Regions from separate parts of the Homo sapiens genome. Here all the other regions are linked to region 2. The links come from fine-mapping of genetic effects on gene expression. A gene starts in region 2. Each other region holds a variant in brackets. All regions are shown on one strand. Distances are from middle to middle.

Region 1 (5,000 bases), 87 kb before region 2:
AATGAATAATGAGCTTGAAGTCATTATTTTTAGGTTATTTTGTCCTTAAACTTGTATGCACATACACACCTACTCATGTTTGAGTGCTGTATTTTGTAAACTGTAGAGATATTGGACCTGAGGGAAGTGGGTATTTTGAGAGAGTACTGGGCTGTAGTCTTACTGGTTCTGATTGGCTCATGTAGGATGTGACTTGTAGAACAAGTCCCAGTTTTCTAAATTTTTAACTAGGCCGGGTGTGGTGGCTCACGCCTATAATCCCAGCACTTTGAGAGTCCAAGGCAGGTGGATCACTTGAGGTCAGGAGTTCAAGACCAGCCTGGCCAACATGGTGAAACCCCATCTCTACTAAAAATATAAAAATTTTCCAGGTGTGGCGTGCCTGTAATCACAGCCACTCAGGAGGCTGAGGCAGGAGAATCGCTTGAACCCAGGAGGTGCAGGATGCAGTGAGCCAAGATTGCACCACTGCACTCCAGCCGGGGTGACAGAGAGACACACTGCCTCAAAAAAAAAAAAAAAAAAGAAAAAATGCTTATTACAAATATTTAAAATATGAATTGTATAAAGTACAAAAAGAGCTCTTACTGTCCTCTCATGATTTTATTCTATGTATTACATATATGTGTCTATGTTTGTATATGTGTGTAATCATATATATTTCACACATACATGATTTTTTTAACAAATGGGATCATACATTCCATCCTGCAACTTGTCTTTTTTGTTTACTGGTATATCTTGACACTTTGGATATGGATCTATGTCATTGGCTTGCCTTTCATCATAGAGTTTTATTTGAAATGAAAATGTTTTTGGACTTCGGCATGATTTCCTAAACCCCCCAATCAATGTGTTTTAAGTAGTAAGTGTATTTGAATGCATATACATGCTGTGGCTTAGATCATTTTGTTTTCAAATAATACTGAAGTCCTCATAGCATTTGGTTGTTTTCTAGTCTCAGTTAATGGATATTAAACATAGAACTGCTCTGTGGAGACTAGAGAAATATTTTGAGGTTGAAAGGGGGCCTCATTCTTGAAAAAGCCTGGAGACCCTCAGGGAGAGGGTTGGGCAGGCTGCCTCCTGAAGTACCTTTCCACATTCCTGAGTTCTAGTAAGTTGCTCAATTGACACAGTCATTCAGCAAATAGCAATTGTTGGCTCATGGTGCGCCAGGCACTGTGCTGGTCCCTGCTGTCCTGACCAGCATGAGCCCATATTCTGCAAGGAGAGCAAATGGCACATAGCGAGAGCATCTGGACTGTGCTGGGTGTAGTGGAGGAAGTGGAGCAAGGTCAGGTGGCGCAGAGCGGTGCTGGGGGTGCCACCTGGGTGGTGATGAGGCAGAGCTGACTCTTCCTCTGCTGCCCATGGGAAAGGGAGCAGGCCCTGCTTACCCCGAGTGTACAAGAAGCCCAGTGGCCGGGAGCAGCTCCTCAGAGAGCTCCCTCCTGGACCCCGCAGTGACTGCCCACAGGCTCTGTGGCCTGCAAGGGGCTCTACAGCCAGATATGGGCATGCTGGCAGGCAGCTGTGCTTGAAATGCTGATAGGGGCCTGGGGTGTAATGCTCTTCTCAAGAGAGTGGTTTTGGCAGGGCTAGGGTTTTGCCCCTGAAGCTTTGCAAATCCACATCCCCCACTGGAGTCTCCACGTGTCCTGGTACCATCCCGGGGACAAGAAGCAGGGAAAAAGCAGGGGAAGGAGGTGGGAACCCTGCAGTCCACCCTTCTCCTATCCTAATGGAGTGGCCAGGGAAGGGACTCTCTGTATATCTTAGTTTAGTAAGAGTTTGCAGAAGTCAAGTTAAAAATGGATTTTTTGAAAATGAAATACCCATGTGAAAGAACACATTGGATGATACATGGTCAGTTGCATGATTGTTGAGAAGGTCTTCTGACTGATGAGTGTGCAGGTAGCTGTTTGTTCCTGTGGATGAAAAATGGGAGCCCGAAGAGCTCTTCATTGACACACCCACAGCCACCTAGCTAGGGAGAGGGTGAGTGTAGACCAGTCCCTGACCTCCTGCCCGGGTGAAAGACTAGCTACGGAGACGGTGAGTGCAGACCAGTCCCTGACCCCAGCCCAGGTGAAAGACTAGCTAGGGAGAGGGTGAGTGTAGACCAGCCCCTGACCCCCCGCCCAGCTGAAAGAAGCTAAGAGCTCCTGACTTTTAAATGAAAATCCAATACTTAGGAAGGCACATATGGCTTCAGGAGAGTGCACCTCTCAGTTTTCAACTCATGTAGTTGGAGAAATCCTATCCCTAGGCCACCTGGCTTCCTGGAGAACAGAAGAGGTGCTATTCATTTTCAGGTAAGGCTTCATTATCTTCCCACTTTACCTGCAGATGAGCTCAGTGGGCGAAATCATATTACATTCCTTCAGAAGACTAGTTCCATTGGAAAGATTTGATTCTTAAACTATAAAAACCTCCAAAGTGCTGTCCTGAGGCCGGGCGAGGGTGATCAGGGGTTGGAAGCCTGGAGGGAATGAGCAGAGCAGGCAGTGGAATATGCAGTTCCCAGGTCCT[C/T]CCGCCACATGCTCTGCAGAGTCAGCGCGTCACCTGCAGGAGGGAGGCAGTGCCTCTTATCGTTGTTCCCTTTTTCATAGCACTGATCCTAGGAGAGGGTGGGTTGCAAGCCCCAGGACACTCAGAGCCAGGACCTGTCTGTTTAGAATTGCATGCAACCTGCGTGGTACATCCTGTTCCTTTTACTCCCTCCCCAACCCACCCTGGTGCCTCTGCTGCTTGGTTAGAAATGGCCTGCAGCTGGCATTTTTCAGGGGGGTGCTCTCACTGTGACCCATGAGGATGGACCCCCCTGAGTGCACTGTCTTAGAGGGCTGAGCTCAGTGGACTTGGTACTGCTGGGCCCTGCATCCTCTGGCCACAGTCTAAGCCTCAGTTTCTTGAAGGGAAGTTAGCAGTTGCTGGAATAAGAGTGTGTCTTGTTTTTTTCTCTCTTCTTGGTGTAGACCCTACTGTCGCATTAATTTCTGGCAACCACACTGAGAAAGGTGTAGATTAAGCTGGAAAATCACGAAGAGTGCCAAGGGATTGGTCAGTTTTTACTGGGGGTCTGCACCAGGCCAGGTGGGTGCTGGTTTTTTGTCTACATTGTCTCATTTAATCCTCATGGCCACTCTGAGGTAGTGGTAGGAGGAGGGCCTTCTATTAGAGATGGGACATTGAGGCTTAGAGAGGTTAAGTGACTTATGGAGTCACAGAGCTAATGGGTGTGAGCAGGGATTTGAACCAAGTCTGGGGTTCTTTGTGCCTCACTATCTCTGACATGGAGTGGCGGAAGGAGGAGGGGATTGTGGGATGGAGACAGGAGACAGGACAGCTGGCTTGCAAGGAATTTGGCATGCCCCTGCTGGGTGGTGTTGCTGATAAACTACAGTACACTCGGTTAAATGTGAAGTTCAGAAAACAACACATAGGTTTTTGTTTTTGTTTTTTTTTAGTATAAGTATATGTAATATTTGGGACATACTTTATACTAAAAAAATTAACTGAAATTAAATCTAACTGGGTATCCTGTGTTTTTATTTGTTCAACCCGACTTGGGGAACCTGGGAAGGACACTGGGCCTCATATCTGGGCACAAAAAATACTGGTTTTGGGGGGGAGTATAAGTATGTCTTATGCAATATTTGGGTTATACTTACACTAAAATTTTATGTTATCTGAAATTCAATCTTAACTTGGGGGATGTCCTGTATTTTTATTTGTCTAATCAGGCAACCCTATTGGTGACCCCAGGAAACACACGAAGCCTTATACACGGGCACCTGAGGGTGGTTTGCGAGCCATCCGGAGAAAACCCAGGCAGCTTGGCAGGTGGTGAGCTCCCCACTGCAGGCTGTATTCAGGTGTGGCCGGATAACTACGTGGTGGGTGTGTCATGGATCCTATTTGCATTCCAGATGCCTGGTTCCTGTGAGATTCTAGGATGTAAATGTTGAGACAAGGAGAGTGATTCACCTGGGTCTTCATGGAGCTCTGACCCACCCAGGGTTAGGAGGCTCTCTCTGAAATTATTTGCCATCAGCACTGTGTTGAGGGGACCACTTCTCCCTGCCATGCAGAAGTGATGGATGGCCTCAGTCAGTCGGTGGAAGCCAGCTCAGCCCAGGGTCTTGTCTGTACGTGGAGAGCTTTGGCTTGAAGAAGCACTGTGTTAAAGGTGAAATGAAACACACTTTCTTGTGTCACCTGCCAAGAACTGACAGTGACTTCCCAGTTCTTTATGTGCCTCCTGCAGGAGAGTGTGGCTTCTGTGCCAGGCTGAGGACCGACATGCCCCGTGTTGCTCCCTGGCTGTGACAGCATGAAAAACACCCACCTCAGTGTTCTACCCAGGCCGCTGCTGGCAAGTGGGCGGAGGCGAGAAGCGTCAGTGTTCATTCCTTTGCTTTTTTAGAGCTTCTCTAGGTGTGGCTACATCTTGTCAGCCAGTCAGAATTTTAAACACAGCCAGCTCCTAATTGCCCCAGCATGGCTTCTGCCCACTATGAATGACCCTCAGCTAAGGCCTAGTCCTTGGCAGGCCTCTTCCTGCCACCTGCTTCCAGACCATCGTGGGAGCTCACTGGGACCTTAGCCTGGGCCCAACAGGAGTCAGGGATCAAATGTGCAAAGGAGTCTTATTCTGTGTTCTGAGAACACAAGGAAGTGGTCTTCTCTCATTATCATGTCTCTCCATTAGGGTGTTCTAAATTTGATTTTATTATTGAATCAATCATTTATATTATTAATTCAATATGAAATGTTAAATGCCAAGTCAAACTACCTATTGTAGCAGTGGAAAAAAACGGAAATATTTGTGCTGATACTTACTGACTGAAATCACCTGTCGTTTTCATTCCTCTTTGTTGACTTGATGTATTTGTAAGCAGCAGGGGCATCTCGCTTGTGTTTTCCAGGAAGAGTCAGTGAATGGCTGCGGTGTGACAACATGCACCACCAGTGGCTTCTGCTGGCCGCATGCT
Region 2 (6,437 bases):
ATTCCACTAGGTGTGCAGTACTAACTGCTTGGGGTTTCATTTGCATTTCCCCAGTGGCTCATAATGCTGAGCATCTTATTTGCCATCAATATGTCTTCTGTAATGAAATGACTGTTCAAATCTTCCACTCACTTTTTAATCCAGTTCTGTATTTTCTTATTGAGTTCTTGGATTTCTTTATATATTTTTGGTTCGTACTTTATCAGCTATGTGATCGGCAAATATTTTCTCCTAGTGTGTAGCATGTCTTAGCAGTGTCTTTAAAACAGCAGAAGTCCTCAATTTGATCCAATTTATTGATGTATCAGTGCCCTAGAAGGAATACTTTTAAATTGGGATTTGTTTTATGGCTCTAAGATGTTCTATATCGGTAAATGTCCCATGTGCACTTGGAAAGAATGTGTATTCTGCTATTGTTGGGTGGAGTGTTCTATAAACATCAATCAGATTGAGTTGGTTTGTAGAATTGCTCAAGTCTTCTATAGCCTCACTGATTTTCAGTATACTTGTATTAATTGTTGAAAGAGGGGTGTTTTATTTTTAAGTTCTGGGGTACACGTGCAGGATGTGAAGGTTTGTTACATAGGTAAACGTGTGCCATGGTGGTTTACTGCACCTATCAAACCATCACCTAGGTTTTAAGCCCCACATGAATTACTTATTTTTCTTCATGCTCTCCCTTCCTCGGTCCCACCGCCGACAGGCCCCAGTGTGTGTTGTTCCCCTCCCTGTGTCCATGTGTTCTCATTGTTCAGTTCCCACTCATAAGTGAGAATATGCAGCATCTGGTTTTCTGTTCCTGTGTTGGTTTGCTGAGGATAACGGCTTCCAGCTCCATCCATGTCCTTACAAAGGACATGATCTTGTTCTTTTTATGGTGAAAAAGGGATATTTAAATATCCAACTATAATTATTAATTTACCTATTTCACCTTACAGTTCTATCAGTTTTTGCTTCAAATATTTGAAAGCTCTGTTATTGGGAACACACGCGGTTAGGACTATTATGTCCTCTTGACCAACTAACACCTTTATCATTATGAAATGGCTGTCCTTTCTCCTAGCAATGTTCTTGGCTATGTAATAGACTTTGTCAGCTATCAATATAGTCACTCTAGATTTATTTTGCTTAGAGTTAACTAGAACATCTTTTTCCATCCTTTTACCTTTACCTTATTTGTATTTTCATATTTAAAAGTTCTTTTTTGGTAGGCAGCATATATCTGGGTCTTCCTTTTGACAATCTTTGCCTTTTAATTATGGTATTTAGACAATATTTAATGAACATTAACCGATATAATTGGGTTTAAACCTGCCATCTTGCTATTTGTTCTCTATTTGTTTTATCTAATTGTTTCCTTCCTCTCTTTTTATGCCTTCTTTTGGATTAATAGAGTTTTTTTTAACAATTTCATTTCATCTCTATAGGCTTTTAAACTATAGCTCTTTGTGTTATTTAGGAGGTTGCTTTAGGGTTAGAGGACACATCCTTAACTCATTACAGTCTTTCTTAAAGTGACATTATACCATTTCACATATAGCATTAGAACCTTACAACAGTATCCTGCCATTTCTCCTCTACCTGCCTTTGTGTTATATTTGTGATATATTTTATTTCTATGTGTTATAAACCTCACAACACACTAACATTTTTGCTTTAAACACTTCTGGCTCTCAGCAGGCATACCTCCGGCAAGCTTCTTTCTGTTCTCTTGCTAGATATTTGTCTAAAATAAGAACAAATAGGATCTGAGATCATAAGGTTTCACAATCTTTACTGTATGGTCTGTGCTCTGAAGCTTTTTCCCCATTGCTTCCTGATTGTTGGTTGTGAATTTGATGGATAAATGACCCTCAAATATAAGTGAATTGTTATTCTATAAAGAAAGCAGATAAAAATCCAAACAGTGATTGAAAAAGTGAATTTGAAATAATTCAGTAATGAAAAAGAGACCCAAACAGTACACTGTTATCAATTAAGTTAGGTAGACAGCTGGGGGAAATCCTTCATGGAAAAGGAGGTGGGTACTCTGCATTTGTTTATTGTAGAACTAGAGGGCTGGCCAAAAATTGCCCCTTTTTCCCTTTTAGGAACTGGTCTAAAATGTTCTCTCACTTAATGAGGCATTTCTCCTTTCCCAAAGCCAGATGTGGTCGAGGTATTGTATATTTTCTTTAGCCAGCAGTTTTAGATGTAGAAAAACCTCTCCAATTTTTTAAAAAAATTTATTCTTGAAATATGAACAGTAGTATGAATTCTAGAATATTGTAATGCATTTTATTGTATTCAAATACACAGGATAAAACAGATACTGTGACGACAGGAAGAAGGGAGCAGGCTACATAGGAGAAATACATAGGCTATATAGGAGAAATTATGAACCCGGTTAATACGCACAGAGGATTTTAATTTAAACCTTGCTTGTACACCAACGGAGCGTTTAGCTCCCTCTCCCCAGCAACTTATGTCTGCAGTACTCCATACTAGGGCACCCTTTCTATTTCTATTCTAATTCTATTAATTAGAATTCTATTTCTAATTCTATTTCTGCTTCCTAATCAAGGGCACAATACAATTGTCCACTTCTCGAATCCCTCCTCCTCCTGGTATCTGGTTCTCTTGGCCCTCCACGTTCTCTGTTAAAATGAGTTCTCAAAGGCCTCAGCCTAGAGTTAAGAGAAGAAGCTCGCTGAGGCGGGGCCTCTGGGTGCCCACTTCAGCCTCCCCAGTCATTTAGGACAATTTCCTAAGTCGAAGCTAGAGATGCGTGATGCGTTTGGTGACTTTTCCTGGGTTCTTGCTTAAGCGGAGCCACAGGTTGTGGGGGCGGCCAGGCCTCTGGGGAAGAGCAGGTGCCGCGGTGCCGGCGCGCCAGCAGCCCGCGGCCAAGGCCACCTGCTCCCAGGGCCCCGGCACCTCTGCGGGGAGGCGGCAGGCAGAGGACGCGCGCGCAGTCGCGCAGGAGCCCTCAGGCGAGTGGGGGAAGCATCGCAAGAGACGCGGACCTGGAGCGCGGTCACTGCGTTACCGCAGCGACCTGGGTTACCTAAGCCGGCGGGACTGAGAGGCCGCTGCGCGTGGGCAGGGGCTCAGATTGCGCCCGCGGTGCCTGTCCCGGCCCCCACCCCGGAACGATTGCAGCCCTGCGGGGCTCGCCGCCCACACCGCGCTGAGGACGCTGCCCAAGCCAGGCGCCCGCCCCCGCCCGCGGTCTCAGCCGCTCGCAGCGCGCCGCCCCCAGACGCGCGTGGCTGCTGGCGAGGGCTGAGACCGCGCTCCCGCCGGCCAGTTCCCAGCAGCAGCGCATCCTCCCTGCTCCGCGCCTTCGCTCCGGACCCGCGTCGTCGCAGCCCCGCGGTGATGAGCCCCGAGCCGGTCCCGCCGCCGCCGCCGCCCCAGTGTCCTGGCTGCGACCGCGCGGAGCCGATCGCCCAGCGCTTAGAGGAGGGCGACGAGGCCTTCCGCGCGGGCGACTACGAGATGGCAGCCGAGCTCTTTCGCTCCATGCTAGCCGGGCTGGCGCAGCCGGACCGCGGCCTGTGCCTGAGGCTGGGGGACGCGCTGGCCCGCGCCGGCCGCCTCCCCGAAGCCCTGGGCGCGTTCCGCGGCGCCGCGCGGCTCGGGGCGCTGCGGCCGGAGGAGCTGGAAGAGCTGGCGGGCGGCCTGGTGCGCGCCGTGGGCCTGCGCGACCGGCCGCTGTCCGCGGAGAACCCGGGCGGCGAGCCCGAGGCGCCCGGCGAGGGAGGGCCGGCCCCGGAGCCCCGCGCGCCCCGCGACCTGCTCGGCTGCCCGCGCTGCCGGCGGCTGCTGCATAAGCCGGTGACGCTGCCCTGCGGGCTCACAGTCTGCAAGCGCTGCGTGGAGCCAGGGCCCGCGCGGCCGCAGGTGCGGCGCGTGAACGTGGTGCTGAGCGGCCTGCTGGAGAAGTGCTTCCCGGCCGAGTGCCGGCTGCGCAGGCTGGCAGGCCAGGCGCGGAGCCTGCAGCGCCAGCAGCAGCCGGAGGCCGCGCTGCTCAGGTGCGACCAGGCCCTGGAGCTGGGTGAGTCGGCTGCGGGGCGGGTCCGCCTCCCCTACACCTGTCCGGCCCAGCAGCGGGGTGGGGAGCTGGCCGGTGGGCCCGAGGCTTTGGGCTTTCGAGAGCTTTGTCTAGGCTTAGGGGTCACTTTGCTTCCTAAGGATGGGAAGGTGAAAGGTGGGGGCGGCCACACCCTGCAGCCAGGAGAGGCCAAGTGCACCCCACTGGTTTTGTCTTTTCCAGGATGCTGGTAAGTTTCCCGCGGCCCCCGGAGCAGCTCTGTAAGGTCCTGTAATTGCTTTTCGGCATCTTCTGCGCTGTTGAGGAGCGGGGAGGATGACGAAATATTTTTGCTCATCCTGAAGGAAAATGCACATAGCTGACACACTACAGGCGCAGAAAGGGGTGCCTTGTGCTGGGGCAAGATTTGCTTTGGGTTTCAGCTAATATAGCCAGGAAGGAACCGCCTCCACTCTGCTGTAATCACGTCAAACGCTCCGGCTCTAGCCTGCTCTCTGTCTCAGAGGCCATCATTAGATGTCATGGCGTATTTAACTTACTAGATAGTTACACTGACTAGTGTGTGTAGTTTTAAATTGTTCATTCAGTCATTTCCTTATTTATCTGAGGCCTAAGGCCAGCAACAGGCACTCTCCTGCCTTCACCCAGCCACCACCTGTTAACACTATTTAGCTGAAAGGAAGACCAAACTTCTGTCATCGTTTTGGCTTTGACATATGAGTATGCGCTCTATTGGCAGTTGTTTTGGGCAGTGTGAGGAGGACGGTTTGCTTTCTGGTTTCACCGGTTTTATAATAGGGCATATACGATTTAAAGCACTAGCCGAGAAGACTTGTTGAATCTCTTGTTACTAAAATAATCTACTACCATGCTGTAGTCAGTGCACATTTTATTTTAAACTTAGGATTAAGGTTTTCCCTTTTAGAAGGCACAAATTATAAAGTGACTAGCATTCAATTTTGTCTTGCAAAAAAAAAGATCCAAATATTGAACAAGTGTTCAATATCTGTATCTAAATTGGGATATTCTCTGCTGGAATAGAGCACTTAACTCAGCTTTTCTAACGAGTATTCTGTAGTTTTTGCAACCAACATATCCATACTTTAACAGGCATATTTTTTAGTTTTCTACTAATTTAGGTATTGATGGTGTTAGAGCAGCACTATCCAATTAGAACTATTGTGTAAGCCACACATAATTTGGGATTTTCTTGTAGCTACATTAAAAGGGTGAAAAAAGCAGGTGAAATTTATTTTAGCAATTTTTAACCCTATACATCCAAAATATTATTTCAACATGCCTTCAATTTTAAAAAATAATTGAGATTTTACTTTTTTAAACTAAGCCTTTGAAATTCGTTATATATTTTGCATTTACTGCACTACCCAATTCCAACATCAAATTTTCATCAGAAATACTTCATCTGTATTTAGATGTTGGAGAAGATGTAGAAAAATGAAAACTGTGATATTTATATGCTGCTAATGGGACTGCAAATTATGCCCCTGAAAAATATTTGGTAGTATCTACAGATGTTAAGCCTGTCCTTGGCCAAATAGTTTCAAAGAGGTATATGCATATGTGCCCCCAAAAGAATGTGCAATTAGATACAAGAGTGTATGTCATTGTTAGAGATACCCCAAAAGTGCACACAACCCAAATGTCCAGTAAGAGCAGAAGGGGTGAATATATGATTATGTTTTCATAGCATACTATACAGAAAGAAAATAAATCAACTACAGTTACAAACTACAATGTGGACAAATCTCACAAACATAATGTTAAGTGGAAGAAGCCAGACTCAAGCATTTTTACTATATGATCCTATTTATCTGTAAGCCCAAACAGACAAAATTACTGTAGGATGTTAGAAGTAAGGACAATGGTTACCTTGGGGGGATGAAAAGGGAATAGTGATTGTGAGGAAGTATGAGAGGGATCTGTGGGGTAGTGGTGATGTTCTGTTTCATGATTTAGGGGATGGATACACAAGTGTGTTCACTTTGCAATAGTTCATTGCACTATATACTTATATTTTTAGCTTTTCTGTATATATATTAGACCTAATTTAAACGTTTTTAAAATAGGCTATTTCAGTAAATTCATATGAGAACTTATATAGAATGTATTCATTTTTCTATTCAAAGATTAGCTTAAAATTTTATGAAAACATTTAATTTCAAAATAAATTAGCCCTTTTAAAGAGGTTTTGATATAGTTAAAAAAAAAGTTCACAGATGTTTGGAATCAGAAATACCTGTGTTTAGATCCAAGCTCTGACTTTTTTTTTTTTTTTTAAGACGGAGTCTTGCTCTGTCACCAGGCTGAAGTGTAGTGGCGTGGCTCTACAACCTCCGACTCCCTGGTTCAAGCAATTCTCCTGCCTCAGCCTCCCAAGTAG
Region 3 (6,437 bases), 23 kb before region 2:
GATCCCAAAAGTGAACAGAATCCTCCCTGGGCTTAGGAGACAGAGGTTGGAGTTCAGGCAACTGAAAGTTGTGGGGGCAGAGTACAAGAATGGAAAGATAGAATAAACAGGAGGGAGAAAGAAAGAGCTACAGAAACTTACCTGGCAGTTGCCTTGAGACTTTCCTGAATTATAAAGTGTGCACATGTAGGATGAAGCTCCATGAGGTAGAGCAAAGAGAGGTCAGAGTTATGAGCTGAATGGTTCTCAGGGCTCACACACTCCTAGAAATTATGCAAGGTCACCATTAGCCAGAGTAAAGAGTTGTCCCTCACCACTCAGGGCACCCAATAGAAACCCCCAGATGGGCCACATCTTAGAAGTAAGGCTACGCTCTCCTTGATATAAAGGCAACTCTAGATCCACCATAACAAAACTTCAAAAGAAGCCTCAAAAGGAACAGAAAGTAACTTTACCAGAACAATGCCCTATACTTTTTGGGGGGCTGAGGGAGTCTTTCTCTGTCACCCAAGCTGGAGTATAGTGGCACAGTCATGGCTCACTGCAGCCTCGACCTCCTGGGCTCAAGTGATCCTCCCGTCTCAGCCTCCCAAGTAGCTGGGACCACAGGCACACGCTACCATGCTCAGTTAATTGGTTGTTGTTGTTGTTTTGGAGAGATGGGGTCTCACTTTGTTGCCCAGGTTGATCTCAAACTCCTGGACTCAAGTGATCCTCCCTCCTCAGTCTCTCACAATGCTGGGATTACAGTTGTGAGCCACCATGGCCAGCCTTGCCCTGTACTTAAAAAGAAAATAATCCAGATACTCATTAAATAAAAGTACAATTTCCAGCATCCAGTTCAGTATTATTAGACTTGCCAAGCAATAGAAAAATGTGACTCACAACTTAGGAGAAAAATCAGTCAATATAAACAGACCTAGAAATAATAGAAATAATGAAAGTGGCCGCAAAAGATGTAAATACAGTTATTATAATTATGTTTAAGTGCTTAAAGGAAAACATCAGTGTAGTAAGGAGAGAAATGGGAGATATATAAAGGAACCACATGGAAGGTCCTAGAGATTAAAAATACAATATCTGGAAAAAAAATTCATTGTGTGGGAAAAAAAATTCACATACTAGACCATGCAGAAAAAAAGATTAGTGAACTAGAATGCATAGCAATAGATAGAACAGAAACTATGCAAAATAAAAAAGAGACCACTGAAAATAAATCAACAGAATCTCAGTGACCTCTGGGATAATGTCAAATAGTCTAGCACACATGTAATGGGAGTACCAGAAGGAGAAAATGGGGAACAGAAAAATATATTTGAAGAAATAATGGCCTCCGAAATTTCCAAATCTGATTAAATCTATATGTCCACAAGTTTAACAAGCTCAGTGAACTCCAAGAGGGTTAAATACAAAGAAAACCACCCCAAGGCATATAAAATTCCTGAAAACCAGTGATAAAGGAAAAAATCTTAGGAGCAATCAGAAGAAAAAACAGCATATTACATAGGGGAACAAACACAAATCAGTCACAGACTTCTCACTAGAAACTATGAAAGCCAGAACAATGAAATGACATCTTTAACATGCTGAAAGAAAGTAACTTTGAACTTCGAATTCTATGCTCATCAAAAATAGCCTGCAAAAATAAAGGCAAAGAAAAACTTTTATCAGGAAAAAATACATATGACATAATAGCACAAAAGATATGTAGGGAGTGAAAGTAAACTCCTACATATTGTTGTAAACTTTTTGCATAATTATTGAGGAGGTGCTAGGTAAACAGAGCAGCCAGTGTGAACATTTTCAGATGTCAGTCACCTCGCATGAATCCTATGCTCAAAGCCCTCCAACAGTGTTCCACCTCACAGTAAATGCTGAAGTCCCTGCCATAGCCTGTGAGGTTGGGCACAATTTGACCCTCTCCTCTCAAATTCTCACCACCACTGTGACCTCAATTATGAATAGATTAGCAAAAATACACATTTATGAGTCTTTTTAAAATAAAATTTCACCAAGAATTTATGATTATCTTTTCTCTGGAAATTATGAAATACATCTTCTTAAAATGTAAGACCCATAAGACAATGCCATCATCTCCCTTGTCTGGAATTCACTCCAACATGGCAGGGAATTTCTCCCAAGTTCCCATAATTTCTGCTTGGCCACATAGTCCTTTCTCCAATATTACAATTGAGCCCAGAGCAGAAGATCCTGCTCTTGTTGCCTTAACTTTCAGAATGATTTTTAAAATGGTAGCTAAATAGCCTTTCAGGAGCCACAATCTGTGCTAAGGGCTTTTGACCAAGGGGAGCATGTGGGTTACATTGGAGCTTTAATTGTTTCTAATGGATGAATAAAATCCTTGCTGTTCTTCTTCTGAGTCACTGCAGTCTCCACTGCTCCATTTCCTCCACTGTATTAGGTTTCAGACCACGGACTCTTCAGGTTGTCACTAGGGCCCTTTTCCCCTTGCCAACTTATTTTCCAAGCCTTGCCTCCCTTTCCTTGCACATCAGCTAAATGGACCTAGTGACTTAGCCTTGGGAAAAGCCTACTAGTCCTCATCCACACCTCTGTTCATGACGCCCTGCAGCCAGGGTTATTTTTGTCCTCTAAAGACCCATAGCATAAAGAGCCGTATTTCTATAGTTGAAAGCCATACAACCTATTTTCAGTTGCGGATATCTATGAGGGTAAGTAAGGAAAACCAACTACACTGTGCTTGAGCAGACTTCCAGCAGCTGCCAAGATTTTACACTCCTGGGGTGATCTTAACTTGTCCCAAATTTACAATTTATAATAGGCAACTATCATCTCTACAGAAGAAAAATAGAAAAATATGTAATGTAGAAAACTAAATATGCCAAGGTTTGGTGAGAGTTA[A/T]TCACAAGTTTCTGTAAGAATAGGGCTTATCTTCCATCCCAACCTCTTTTTTAACCTATATTTACTCACTAACTCCCAAGTCAGTATCAAGTGTGCAGGAATGATAAAGAAATGCCTGTAACATTCTAGGAGCTTTTGCAGGCTCCTTGTCCTCCTTCAGCTGTTAATAAATAACAAATTAATGTGTGAACTGGTAAAAATTATTCAGCAGGATTGACTTCCCAGTAGTTGTTGGAGTATATTTTAGGGTAGTTTAACAAATTGGGCCACTGGGGAAGAAGTAGCTGTATTAGTCCATTTTCATAATTCTATGAATAAATACCTGAGACTGGGTAACTTATAAAGAAAAAGAGGTTTAATGGACTCACAATTCCACCTAGCTGGGAGGCCTCACAATAATGGGGGAAGGCAAAGGAGGAGCAAAGCCACGTTTTACATGGTGGCAGGCAAGACAGTGTGTGCAGGGAAACTGCCCTTTATAAAACCATCAGATCTTGTGAGACTTATTCACTATCACAAGGACAGCACAGGAAAGACCTGCTCCCATGATTTAATTACCTCCCACCAAGTTCCTCCCATGACATGTGGGGATTATGGGAGCTACAATTCAAGATGAGATTTGGGAGGGGACACAGCCAAACCATATCATTCCACACCTGTCCCCTCCCAAATCTCATGTCCTCACATTTCAAAACCAATCATGCCTTCCCAATAGTCCCCCAAAGTCCTAATTGTTTTCAGCATTATCTCAAAAGTCCACAGTCCAAAGTCTTATCTGAGACAAGGCAAGTCCCTTGTGCCTATGAGCCTGTAAAATCAAAAGCAAGTTAGTTACTTCCTAGATTCAATGGGGGTACAGGCATTGGGTAAATACATCTGTTCCAAATGGGAGAAATTGGCCAAAGCAAAGGGGATACAGGCTCCATGCAATTGCAAAATCCAGCAGGGCAGTCAAATCCTAAAGCTCCAAAATGATCTCCTTTGACTCTATGTCTCACATCCAGGTCATGCTGATGCAAGAGCTGGGTTTCCATGGTCTGGGGGAGCTCTGCCCTTGTGGCTTTTTGCCTCCCTCTCTGCTGCTTTCACGGGCTGCGGCTTTTCCAGGCACACAGTGCAAGCCGTTGTTGATCTGTGGCAGGCCAATTCTCCCTGAGAGTCACACAGACAGGGCTCCATAGCACTCCAGTTATACAGGCAAACTTCCACAGCGTCTGCCTTAACAGTAAGTTAATAATTAAACCTAGGGAAACTGATGCCCAGACATTAAAGCCAGAAATGAAACATATGTTTCAGGAGAGTCTTGCTCAGGCTTCTCCTGAAGCTTGGAACAAGTAAAGATAATGGAAATAGCTTTACATTCCTTGTAACAGGACCCATCTTGGGTTGACCACACCTGGGGTAAGTCAAGATAACAAAGACAGCCCTACATTCCTCATACCAAGACCCATCTTGGGTTGAATAAATTTACTGGGGGTCTGAAGCAACTCTCTAGACACAAATCGTAGGTAAGATAAGACAGAAGTAATCACTCCAGTATCAGGGCCCTCATTAAACAGACTTAGGAGACATTTCTTAATCACCATGATTCCAGGGCCCTCATGGATTAAGTAGATTTAGAGGACATCTCTGGCCTCTGGCCTTGTAGTTAAAACAAAATTAATCACCTATAAACTTAGGTGAATATGGTACTGAACATAGGCATACAATCTAAACATATGTAGGCACTGGAAAAAATTTATAATCCTGAGTTGGTCTAACAAATTATCTCTGACCCTCTCCCTGTATCCAGTTACAGAAGCAAACTCTCTTCTTTCCCAATTCATATGCATCTCATTATAGGGCCATGAGAAAATGCAGCCAGACCTGGTTCAGTCCGGGAACAGATCTGTCATTCTGGGGTCTAGACATGGTGGCCCTCTTCTCACAGCTCCACTAGTCAGTGCCCTAGTGGGGACTCTGTGTAGGGGCTCCCACCCCACATTTCCCTTCCACACTGCCCTAGCAGAGGTTCTCCAAGAGATCTCTACCCCTGCAGCACACTTCTGCCTGGACATCCAGGTATTTCCATACATCCTCTGAGATCTAGGTGGAGGTTCCCAAGCCTCAATTCTTGACTTCTGTGCACCTACAGGCCTAACACCATGTGTAAGCTGCCAAGGTCTGGAGTTTGCACCCTGTGAAGCAACAGCCTGAGCTCTATGTTGGCCCCTTTAAGCCACAGCTGGTATGCAGGGCACCAAGTCCCGAGACTGCACAAAGCAACAAGACCCTGGTCCAGCCCACAAAAACATTTTTTCTCATAGGCTTCCTGGCTTGTGATGGGAATGTTGCTGGGGAGACTTCTGACATGCCCTGGAGACATGTTCCCCATTGTCTTGGTGATTAACATTTGGCTTCTCATTATTTATGCAAATTTCTGTAGCTAGCTTGAATTTCATTTCAAAAAATGGGTTTTTCTTTTTTATTGCATCATCAGGCTGCAAATTTTCCAAACTTTTATGCTCTGCTTCCCGTTTAAATATAAGTTCAAATTCCAAGCCATATTTTTGTGAATACATAAAACTGAATGCTTTTAACAGCACCAGGTGACCTCTGAAATGCTTTGCTGCTTAGAAATTTCTTCTGCCAGATACCCTAAATCAACTCTCTCAAGTTCAAAGTTCCACAGATCTCTAGGGCAGGGGCAAAATGCCACCAGTCTCTTTGCTAAAACATAGCAAGAGTCACCTTTATTCCAGTTCCCAACAAGTTCATCATCTCCATCTGAGACCACCTCAGCCTGGATTTCATTGTCCATATCACTGTCAGCATTTTGTCAAAGCCATTCAATAAGTCTCTAGGAAGTTCCACACTTTCTCACATTTTCCTGTCTTTTTCTGCACCCTCCAAATTTTTCCAACCTCTGCCTGTTACCCAGTTCCAAAGTCGCTTCCACATTTTCAGGTATCCTTATAGCAGTACCCCACTCTACCTGTACCAATTTACTGTATTCATCCATTTTCATACTGCTATGAAGAAATGCCCAAGACTGGATAATTTATAAAGAAAAAGAGGTTTAATGGACTCACAGTTCCACATGGCTGGGGAGGCCTCACATTTATAGTGGAAGGCAAAGGAGGAGCAAAGGCATGTTTTACATGGTGGCAGGCAAGAGCACATGTGCAGGGGAACTGCCCTTTATAAAACCATCAGATCTCATGAGACTTATTCACTATCATGAGAATAGCATGGGAAAAACCCACCCCCATGATTCAATTACCTCTTACTGTGTCCCTCCTATGTCACGCAGGGATTATGGGAGCTACATTTCAAGATGAGATTTGGGTGGGGACGCAGCCAAACCTTATCAGTAGCATTACTGGATTGCAAATACAGTTGCAAGACAAGGGTTAGCACCAGCCACTTAGGGAGGCTGGGTTTGGGGGAGATTTGACAATTTACCTCATAGGAAGAGAATAATGTGCAAGATTGGGCAGGAAGGGGGTGAAGGAGGGAGTAGAGGGAGCCTTGCCTGAGAGGCTGATATTCAAATACCTCCCAACAAGTTCCCA

Which allele goes with the higher level. Positions count from the first base shown, and alleles are read on the strand shown. Sizes are in standard deviations (SD) of each study's normalised expression. Not every link is listed here.
For the expression in atrial appendage of the gene that starts at base 2,953 in region 2, allele C in region 1 goes with a lower level than allele T (small effect, 0.30 SD a copy in GTEx).

The links. PIP is the estimated chance that this variant, and not a neighbour inherited with it, causes the effect. A credible set is the group of variants that fine-mapping cannot tell apart.
Region 1: its variant is the best candidate, but not a certain one, in a credible set for the expression of LONRF2 in atrial appendage (GTEx, PIP 0.52).
Region 3: its variant is the best candidate, but not a certain one, in a credible set for the expression of LONRF2 in stomach (GTEx, PIP 0.72).

Annotation. Positions count from the first base shown.
Region 1 is chr2:100,406,642-100,411,641 of GRCh38, reverse strand. It overlaps CHST10 (carbohydrate sulfotransferase 10), which reads left to right. Exons shown (of 7, transcript NM_004854.5): 3 at 4,935-5,000. The coding sequence starts at 4,967. Among named protein-coding and RNA genes, the nearest start is that of CHST10, 8.5 kb to the left of the region's middle. The variant C/T (reference allele first, on the strand shown) is at 2,536.
Region 2 is chr2:100,319,017-100,325,453 of GRCh38, reverse strand. LONRF2 (LON peptidase N-terminal domain and ring finger 2) reads left to right here and starts at 2,953. Exons shown (of 12, transcript NM_198461.4): 1 at 2,953-4,039. The coding sequence starts at 3,361.
Region 3 is chr2:100,342,272-100,348,708 of GRCh38, reverse strand. No RefSeq gene overlaps it. Among named protein-coding and RNA genes, the nearest start is that of LONRF2, 23 kb to the right of the region's middle. The variant A/T (reference allele first, on the strand shown) is at 2,884.